Regions from separate parts of the Homo sapiens genome. Here region 1 is linked to region 2. Evidence: fine-mapped expression QTL. A gene starts in region 2. The other region holds a variant in brackets. All regions are shown on one strand. Distances are between the middles of the regions. Region 1 overlaps NRG2 (neuregulin 2). Region 2 holds the start of NRG2 (neuregulin 2).

What was found.
Region 1: its variant is fine-mapped to the expression of NRG2 in lung (TOPMed, PIP above 0.99).

The regions. Positions count from the first base shown.
Region 1 is chr5:139,877,999-139,883,365 of GRCh38, reverse strand. NRG2 (neuregulin 2) reads left to right here. Exons shown (of 10, transcript NM_004883.3): 3 at 2,392-2,510. Among named protein-coding and RNA genes, the nearest start is that of PSD2, 85 kb to the right of the region's middle. RefSeq lists an enhancer at 2,687-3,450. The variant C/G (reference allele first, on the strand shown) is at 2,115.
Region 2 is chr5:140,040,032-140,045,398 of GRCh38, reverse strand. It overlaps NRG2 (neuregulin 2), which reads left to right and starts at 2,100. Exons shown (of 10, transcript NM_004883.3): 1 at 2,100-3,029. The coding sequence starts at 2,330. RefSeq lists silencers at 1,958-2,297, 2,458-2,667 and enhancers at 1,966-2,635, 4,008-4,197.

The DNA.
Region 1 (5,367 bases), 160 kb after region 2:
AGGCTGGAACAGGCCCCTTGAGCAGGCAGGGGGCGGGGGGCGGGGGTAGGCGCTGAGGAAAATGTGGAGGACACAGCTGCCCAGATCCTGTCCCTGCCAGCAGAGAACCAGCTGGGGAGGTAGGGGGGAGGGGGGAGGGCGTGGTCACCATCTCAGGGCAAACTTGGGTCAGCATGTGATGGGACACCAGGAGCAGAGCACAGCACGCGGCCTGCCAGGGAGACAGGAGAGTCCTGGATCCTCAGGCTTCCACCTGGAGCTGGGAGTGAGGAGGGAGAAGGTGGTGACTCCAGTTCCTGCAGGGGCTGAGAAACCCTCAGAGCCCTGCCCCTTAGCCAGGACCCAGAGCCCCGTGTGCATCTCTGGGGCCGGCTTCTATGAAATCATCAGACAGCTGCTAACCTAGGACATCTGCAGCAAGCCTCAGGGTCATTATCTCTGTCCCCTGCCTCTTTCTTGTTCCTCAGAAGGAAGGGGCACTCCTAGAGACCTGTGCCTGCCTTCTCCAGGTCTCACATGCCTGCATGTGGGGAATCCTTCCTTAACATTCTGCCACGTCCTGCTACATATGATGCTGTATAAGGGAAGCGCCTCTGAATTCCAGGGGGGTGACAAGGAGAATCTGGCTCTGAGTCCCCTGTGCATCAACACCCCCACCCCCGGACCCTCAGGCGATCCCCCTTCCCTGCTAATCTGGTGTGTGCACAGGGAAGTGAGAGAAGCCATACCCTGGGCAAGCTGGAGTTTGTGGCATCTAATTTGGCTGGAGCAGGGAAAGAGATGCTGTCTTAGTCAGAGGGGCCTCCAGGGCTCTCTTTAATGAAGGGAACAAATTATAATTGACAGAAGAGGGTTGTGGGCCGGCACCAGGCCAAGGAGACAGAGACCAGCTTGAGCCAGGAAGAATATGGTATAGTTAAGCAGCTGTCACCACAGCATCAGCAAGGACATTACCATAGCAATAGGGTCTATAGACAAGACCATCTTGTAGCACCCTTGTTGGGAGGACCTTGGGGTAAGGATGCCAGGATGCCTGGGAAGAGGCTCCCCATCAGAGGTGGAGACAGCCCAGGTAGGGATTGTGGGCCAGTTTGCGTCTCCTTGACCCTGGCCCAGCCTATCTGCTTGCCTCTCCTCAGCCTCCTTACCCCATCAGCTCCATAGCTCAGTTTTACATCCCCTAGGCTCAGGGCAATGATGGCTCTACTGCCCTCCCTCGTATTCCCCCATCTCTCCAGCCCACTACACATAGGCTGGAAATCTGGCTTTTTAATTCAGCACTAAAAAGAGGAGGTGATCATACCATGTGCAGAAATTACCGTGTTACTTCTTGCTTCCTCCTGGGGGCCAGCCTGGGATCCCAGGCTTTATCCAGAGCTCATGCTGGCCCTTGGAGGCAGAGGAAGGGGTGAGGGCTGTGAACAGGCCCTTGCAGAGCCTAAGCACCCTGGGGTAGGTGCAGGGAAACTCTGAGAAGGAAGGAGAGGTTTGGCTGGGGCTTCAGAAAGAAGAGGGGGACCAAGGCCAGGTGCCCTACACAGTTCTCAGCATGCAGGGACTAGGTGCAAAGCTTCAGGGCTAGCCCCAGCTTTTCTCAGAGATAGCCCACGTCCTCATGAACTGCAGCTCCTGGCATACCTCTGCCTTTGCCTTGCCGAGTGCCCTTGGGCAAGTCAGGAAGTCCCTCTAGGACTCAGTTTTCCCTTCTGTAAGCAGAGAACACCCAGTTTGGCCCTGAGGATCAAGTCCAGGATCTTTTTGTTCCCCAAGGTGTACAAGCTCCTGGCACACAGGAAGTGCTCAGTAAACATTTGTTGAATGAATGAATGAAACAAAAACCCCTTGGAGAAGCCACAGAGTGCCCCTTAGTGGCAGCGCTGATTTTGAGAACAAGGGAGAGCCCCAGGTTTGGACTAGGAGTCTGGGCACCATCACCATGGGAATCCGTCAGGACAGCTGCCCTCCCGGGTATCTGGGAACAGGTCTTGCATACCCAGAATGACAGGTTGCCACTTCCCAGGAGAGGCAGAGGCAGCTGGGAATGAGGGAGGTGGCCATGTGACTTCCTACAGGGCCTGGCTTTACTCCCCCAGAAGAATGTTACAATGGTCCAG[C/G]CCTAGAAGAGCGGATGTGAGGGATCATAGATTTAGGACATGTGAGCAGCCACTAGTCCTGCCCTGTGTTGTCCTAAGGGCCCAAGGCTCCCTGCAGCTGCAGGGACTCCGTGCCCCACCTGGACTCCAGAAATTGCTGGGGGGAGGGAATCTCCTTCCCATCTAAGCTGCAGGGCCACTGTGGCTCTGTGGAGAGAGGCAACCGCTGGGTGACTGCTGGGGAGCCACAGCCGGCCCTGGCTCACGCCTCTCCCCCTTTTATCCCCTCCCTAACCAGAAAGAACTCACGACTACAGTTCAACAAGGTGAAGGTGGAGGACGCTGGGGAGTATGTCTGCGAGGCCGAGAACATCCTGGGGAAGGACACCGTCCGGGGCCGGCTTTACGTCAACAGCGGTAGGTGGGCCCAGACAGAGGGAAGGGTCCTAGAGGGGTTTGGCAGGGCGGGCCAGTGGCCCCCCAGCCCTTGGGGCCTGCATGTGATCCATCTCGCACTCAACTCCCCTCCCTCCTGCTGCTGCCATATCAAGCCCTAGATCTCAGCCGATTCAGAGAAATGCAGTCGAAGCATAAATGTTTAGCTTTGTTATCTGGGCCTGGAAGAGCCGCCAGCTCTCATTTTAAATACCCTGAAAACTAAATATTTTGAAATCAAGAGGTGGGGGTGGGGAAAGGATATTTTTAGAAGGCAATTATAGGAGGCTGGGCTGCCAGGAGTGGGGCTGCAGGGAGAGGCAGGCCTGGGGCATGTACAAGCTGACTGCCTATTGCCTGTTGCTTTGCTGGGCACCTGAGCACAGGCAGCCATCTCCACTGGGCCATGGGTGGGCAGCTTGGATGCCTGGGGCCCCTGGTGGCAGCCTCTGTTCAGGGAGGGCAAACTCCTCCCCGACAGGCCATCCTCACTCCTTGAAGTCTTGCAAGGTCAGGACCTCACGGCACCTCTTACCTTCTCGTCTCTACAGTGGCAGACCCAGCCTCAGGGTAGAGGCTGCCTTCCTGCTGCACTGCCCTCTCAGGCCCTGGTTCTTTCCCTTGACTGGGAGATTGCCTCTCCGCCAAAACTACCTGTCCTCAGGCAGTGCCCTCTCCACTCTAGCTTGAGTACCTTAAATCCCACAGATCACTCTCCTCCCCCCAACACACACAGACTGAGTGTGCATGTGGCTACCTATTTATTGGGGTTCACTTCCAGTCCTGCTCATCACAGAATATAATCCTGTATCTGTCATTACCTGCCTCTATTTCCACCAGACAGCCTCCCAATATGCCCTAAACCTAGCATGGTCTAAAAGACTACTTGGAACACTCTCTGCCCTATGACCCTCAGACAAAAACCTAGTTCAGACCCTGTCTTCCTGTCCTGGTGAGGGACACCCCGTCCTCCCAGCCCCTTGTGCTCCTTGGTCTCCCTTGCCACTGTGTCTAATAAGTCTGAGTCTCCATGTCCTTGCCAGTCTTCTTTCTGGATCTTTCTCACACCTGCCTCTTCTGCTCTAACTATACCTCAAGGGTAACCCTGGCTTGGGTTTCATCCCTAGTCACCTGAACCAGAGCAGCAGCCTCCTAAGGTGCTTTTATCCTGTCATGTTCCCCACCCCATAGAACTACAGAACAGGGACTTTGTTCTCAACACCCTGGCCTAAATGATCTTTCCAGCCTAACTTCCATCAGTCCCTTGTCCATTCCATTCTTACTCTTGCTCCTGTGCCATCCTGACTCATAGGATGGGTCAAGACAGTTTCTCTCACTATGTGTTGGCCTCATTCTTTCCTACTGTAAAATGGGCCTCTCCCATGTTCGGAGAGTGGGGTGGGAAGAGGAGGCCATGGCTTCATCTCTTCCTCCTTGACCATCCCAACCCACTGCAGCGTCTCTCCCAGCTAGGGCTCCACTCCTGGGCCACTCCTTGGCCAACCATGCTCTGATGGCATCTCTTGAATTCTAGCCTTTGATTAGCCTTCAACTCTCATGCTATTGCTGAACTTTCTCTGTGGGCGTGGCCATCCCAGTGAATCTGTGAGCCTCAGGAGAGGGGAGAACAGGGAGGATGCTTTCTCCTGGAAGTTACAATCATAGCCAGTATTTATTGAGCCAAGCTCCACATTATCCCATGAACCCATACTCAAAGCCAGGATATATTTTATAAACAATAAGAAGCTCAGGGAGATTAAATATTTCACCTGAAGTCAAACACCTAGTTAATGATAGAGCTGTACGATGTAAAAGTAGTTGGCAAACACTTAGTCTTTGAGCTCTGTGGGGCTATGTCTAGTCTGTCTACCACCCTAGCCTCAGGGTCTAGCACAGCACCTGGCTCACAGTGGGTGCCTGGTAAATATTATATAAGAGAACTTATAACCTGCTCCAAGGTCTTTACTGCCTCCTCTATGGCCCAGCCTGGGCATGACAGCAGGGAGGGTGTCTGAGCTCCTACTTCTCTCATCCTATCCCAAGTTTGGGAAGGTGGGCTGTGTCTGGGGTCTAGCACCTGCCACCTCTGCTGTAGTGGTCAGACATTCTCAGATCCACTTTGGATTTGGGGCCTTCCTATTTTATTAGTCAAGACTTTCTTGACTAGAATTAACTTAAGCCTATCTTAAGGGATTTATTTATTGGCTTATAAAACTGGTAAGTTCAGAGGTGGAACTGGCCCCAGGCATGACAGAATCTAAGAACTCAGAGGAAGAGTCCAAGAACTCATAGGATGGCTCAAGACAGTTTCTCTCACTATGTGTTGGCCTCATTCTTTCCTACTGTAAAATGGGCCTCTCTCATGTTTGGGGAGTGGGGTGGGAAGAGGAGGCCATGGTCTCAGACAGGTCCAGATCTACCCCATCCCAGCCCACCACCCGGAGAAAAGAGATGGCTTTGTCTCTGTGTCCATAAGTACAGTCACAAGGATGGATTCTGAATGACCCTGCCAGGTCATGTGACCCACTTGACCAGTCACTGTGCTTGGAGGGTGGGGCCATCTTTGCCTGGCCTGTCTGTGTGTGCACAGGGGCTACTGAGAGGCAGGGCACTGTGAGTGAAGGCCTGGTCAGAACTCCATGGAAAAGCACTTCCCCGAAGGGGTGCTGTTAGCAGAGAAAGTGGGAGCGGCTGCTGTGCAGAAAACCACAGGAGTGCCCTCTCTCTTGCACAGGGCTTGGGGCCTGTGGCCAGAGGTGGTGAGACCCCTCAGATAAGCTGCAGTCCCCTCCCACACACGGATTACTGTCAGCCCTCCGTAGGCCATGCTGTGATCAGT
Region 2 (5,367 bases):
TATCTTCCTTATGGTGATGTTTTGTGATTTATGAGGTCTGTGATCTATGAAAATGAAATGGGGGACACTGAAGGAGCCAAGAAGATTGGCTTGATGCCTTTAAGCGTGCCGATTTTCAGTTATTTTCTTCCTTCTCTCCTTCTTTCACTGGAGATTTGCTAATCCTTATTTTATGCCAGGCATTGTGTTGGAGGTAATAGGAATCCAAAGATGAATAGGATATATATAGTCCCTGACATTAACGTGCCTGGCCTGATGGGAGATGCAGACCCATTAAATGGCTGCTTGAAATACGGTATGGGCCAGTATCCCAACAGTAATACTATGTGTGAAGCTCATGGCAATACAGAGGAGGAAGGGATTAATTCCATCATGTATGTGTTGGTGGGAGTAGAGGTGGATATGTAGGAAGGGGGATGCGGTATAATGCTGAGCTGGGCCTTGGGAAAATAAGTTTTCCATGTGGTCAAGGTGGAGGTGAGGCTTTCTGGACACAAGAGACATCATGTGCAGAAGCACACCAAGAAAGAGCATGAAGTGCTGAGGATTGCTAGAGTGGGGGGTTGGCTCTCAGGATATGAAGCTGGCTAGGCAAAGGGAGCCCATGAAGAGCCTTGCTGAGGAGTTTGAACTTAACTTCTGAGAGCAGTAGCATGGCCAAATTGTACTTACATTTTATTTTTAGAAGGATCACTCTGGCATTGGTAGGACTGGAGATAGGTGATGAGGTGAAAGGAGTGGAGACCAGTTAGAAGGCTTAGAAGTTGTCCAGGTGAGAGATGATGAGGGCTTGGACTTAAGGTATTTGCAGCAGAGTTGGAGTGGAAGTAGATAAATTGGAGATTATTTTAAAAGAGAGACCCAAAGGCCTTGGTGATTAATTGGATGAGGAAGAATAAAAGATGAGATGAAGGGACTTATTGTAATGGATTGATGTAGTCTAAAAGAATAAAACAGTGGCATTAATAATTATAGGGGATTTGGAGTGAAGTGGAAGAAATAATGATGTTGGCTTTGGATGTATTGAGTTTAAGATGTCTCTTAGCTAGGAGGAAAGGTGTAGCTCTCTCTACTTCCTTTCCAGAATAGCAGTCCTAGCCTAAGTCACTCATCCTTGGACCAGTTTCCTGTGGAGCCCAGTGCGGTATAAAATTCCCCAAGAGCTCACTGGCATTCCTGAGCTCCACATCCTTCAAGGTTAAAAGCTGGGTGTTGAAAACTCCCTGGACCCTCATTGATAGGCTAATGGATTATGGACCTGTGTGTGTGTGTGTGTGTGTGTGTGTGTGTTTTAAATCAGATGCTGGCTCCAGTGCAGCAAACTCTTCTGCCTCTTGCAAGCATCAGCCTTGGAAACAAAACAAAACAAAACAAAAAAAACCTTTTTTATGGAGCAGCCTCTGGCCCTGACAGGCTCTGGCTCTCTGTTGGCTCCCAAGAAGCCCCCCACCTTTCTTAGAGATCAGATTTTTAAAAGATGAGGTTGTACAGTGCTCAGCCAGATCCCCACGTGGCCGCTGAAGAAAGCCCAGAGTGTTGGGGACTGGGCCCTTTCTCAGCTACCACCTCTGCTTGGGTGTCCTCAATGCTAAGACAAGACACCTTGTGGCCCAACTCTTTCCAAAATGACGGGGCTGGGATTCTCCCCCACCTCAAGTCGAATATCCAGCGTTCACCAGGCGGTGGCAGGACCGAGCACGTGGTATCATTTAGGGGCTGGGCTCCAGGGTCCTCCTAGGAAAGAGGACAGCCCAAGAGGCGAGAGGCTGGCCGGCCACCCTGGCCATGGCAACCTCTCTGGCTCCTACAGCTGCTGGCCAAAGGCAGGGGGCACGCCCTGCGTCCCATTACCACGTTCATAGGATGGTGCCAGGAGCCCGTTATCTCTTCTTCGCCTTCTCCTCACGCACCACCCCCACTGTCATGCCGATAAATCCCGGGAGCAAAGGGTGGCACGATTCCTCCCGCGCCCCTGCGGGCTGAAGGCGGGCACTAAAGCAGTGCAGTCCCAAGCTTCCCCTGCAGAAGCCGCGCTCCCTACTCGGTCCGGGGGCAGAGGGGGCGCGAGAGAGCAAGTGGGCGGGCGTCCCATCCTCCGCATCCTCCTCCAGGTCCTGGCGCACAGGGTGGGAGCGCTGCGCTGCGCCGCGCTGCGCATCGCGGCCCGCTTGCCGCCTGCCCCCTGCCCTAGCTGGGCCACCTCCCCGGGCTGCCGGTGGAGGGCTAAGAGGCGCTAACGTTACGCTGTTTCCGGTTTTCCAGCGGGCTCTGTTTCCCCTCCCAAGGCGGCGGCGGCTGAGCGGCGGAGCCCCCCAAATGGCCTGGCCAGATGCGGCAGGTTTGCTGCTCAGCGCTGCCGCCGCCGCCACTGGAGAAGGGTCGGTGCAGCAGCTACAGCGACAGCAGCAGCAGCAGCAGCGAGAGGAGCAGCAGCAGCAGCAGCAGCAGCAGCGAGAGCGGCAGCAGCAGCAGGAGCAGCAGCAACAACAGCAGCATCTCTCGTCCCGCTGCGCCCCCAGAGCCGCGGCCGCAGCAACAGCCGCAGCCCCGCAGCCCCGCAGCCCGGAGAGCCGCCGCCCGTTCGCGAGCCGCAGCCGCCGGCGGCATGAGGCGCGACCCGGCCCCCGGCTTCTCCATGCTGCTCTTCGGTGTGTCGCTCGCCTGCTACTCGCCCAGCCTCAAGTCAGTGCAGGACCAGGCGTACAAGGCACCCGTGGTGGTGGAGGGCAAGGTACAGGGGCTGGTCCCAGCCGGCGGCTCCAGCTCCAACAGCACCCGAGAGCCGCCCGCCTCGGGTCGGGTGGCGTTGGTAAAGGTGCTGGACAAGTGGCCGCTCCGGAGCGGGGGGCTGCAGCGCGAGCAGGTGATCAGCGTGGGCTCCTGTGTGCCGCTCGAAAGGAACCAGCGCTACATCTTTTTCCTGGAGCCCACGGAACAGCCCTTAGTCTTTAAGACGGCCTTTGCCCCCCTCGATACCAACGGCAAAAATCTCAAGAAAGAGGTGGGCAAGATCCTGTGCACTGACTGCGGTGAGTCGCCCCCTCCCTTTGCTGGAGAAAGGGGGGAGGGGCGAGGTGGTGGAGAATGGGGGTGGGGCGGGGAGGTGCTGCAGGTGCCCGGGCCTGGCAGCGTCCGGGCGCTGGGGGGGTGGGGCCGCCCCTGGGCAGGGCGCCTGGCACGGGTGGGTGAGGGGGTTGGGGTTGGAGAGAAGAAGGATCAGGCTCAAAGTGTGCCAGGGGTGGGGGGCGGAGGGAGGCGCTGGCCTGTGCCAGCGGGGATCTGCGGCTGATGTATGGCATGTGGGGCTGGAAAGCTGCCATCATAGCCCAGTAGCGGAAGGAAAAACGGAGAGGTCCTGGCGGTGCTGGCCTGAGGCTCAGTGAGTCAGGAGTGACCCTCGGAGGCCTTGCCTGCCCTGCTGCCGCGGGCCTGCCGTGCCCAGGCTGGCAGGGTCTGCGGGAGCAGCTGGGCAGACTCCCAGGCTGTGAAGGCCTCCGCTTACAAGTTCTCCTAGGGAATGGTCGCCCCCGCCCCCTCCTTCCTCTCCTGGGCTCGTTGCTCTGCTCATCCACACCGCTGGCGCAGGCAGAGTTGGACTTTTTCTGCTACTGTTTTCCGTCCTCCATGTGGCTCCAGTTTTTTTCTTCATCGTGATTGCCTGTCTTTGCTAAGCAGGTAGCACATCCTTCTCTTAAGACTAGCAAGCAGACACCTTTTTTTTTTTTTTTTTTTAGCTGTTTCTGGGGGAATTACAAGGTCTGTTGATTGTGATGATGATGAAAGAGAGTAACTTCTGCTGAATGCTTTAAGTTCAGCTCTAACGTCTTACTCGCCGGATGTATTTGACTGCATCTCTCATCTTCATGATGTTGGATGCTGCACAGGAATGCAGGTGATTAGAAACAAAACACTGAAATCTGTAGATCTCTGCAGCTGGGAATGGAAGTCTCCCATGTCAAAAGTCAAAGAAATGTCAGTCTAAGAGCTTTTTCTTCTTGTCCCTGAATCCAGTACTTACTTCTTAGTAAGATATTTCAAATCAAATTGTCCCACACTGGAGTATTTGGTGTAAGCCTGTCTCGTGCTTATTCAAATTGAGGTTTCGTTTTGTCCCAACTAAAGCTGAATTTGTTGGCATGCGGTATGACTTGCTGGACTGTGTAATCGCTGAATTATGATAGATGTCCTGTACTCTCATAGAAGTTGGTATGTTTACCAGTTTTACCAACTGATTCTGGGTAGTGTAGACAGGCTTTGTTTGAGTAGCAAAATATGTGTAACAGCTTATAGTAAGTTTTGCTGCCTTCATCTTTCTAGATCGATACCTATGATTTTTGGAAGCTTTCCTCCCCCACCCCCTTCAGGAGGCAAATTTTAGGAGTTTAGTGATGGGAGTATATCTAGACACTAACTATGTTAAACTGTGATCACTTTAATGAGAAGAATCTTGGCAATGTCTTAATAAGGAGGGGAAAACTTTGGGGGATAACAGCAGTTTATCGCTCTGACATTATCCTTAGGAATATTGTTGACTGCTTTTTATTATTGGTTTTATGTTCTGAAATGTTTTATAAAGACAAGTAGAGACCAGCTAAGAATTTCTAATTTTTTATTCTATTAAGTATTTTGATACTTGGGGAGTATTAAAATACTCTGAGATGCCTTGGGGAGCTGTGAAACAGTATTGTACAGTGGAAAATAGATAGTAAAAATATTTATTGAATCTTGTCCAAGGACAGCTTCTGTTTGGTTGTTGGTGAGTTGCTCCTGCATTTGCACAGTGTACATCTCCACATAATCCCTAGTCTGGGCCGCTGAGGACTTGATGGTCTTTGTCAGATAACCCCATAGAGTAACTGGCTTCTCTGCTCCCTTGTCTCCCTCCTCCTACTTTCTCCTTCCCCCAACACAATACACCTTATCAATTACACATTGTTTGTTCTAGTGGGTATTCAGTAGCTTAACAGTTGAATGCAGAAATCATGAAAGATTTGAGGGGCAGAAATATGGTCTGTTTCTAGGTTATGATCATCTCATATTATCAAAATAGCATGTGTAGTATAGTTCTTAAAAAGATACATTTAGAACTGCAATCACTGGTAAAGGAAGGGCCCTCACATATCACAAATTATCAAGGATCAGGAATGTGTATGGCAGTAAACATTTTAGAATGCAAAAAAAAATTGCTTTGAATTGATATTCAAAGGGAAGTATATAAATAGGTACCATTTTGGGGAGCCTTATATAAGGGGATTAGAAATTAAAGGACATATTTGTGAGACTTGTGGAATTGGTGATAATATAACAGAAGAGCATAAACTGCATTTTCTTGTTTTCTACTATGTGGTTAAAGAAAACATGTACTGG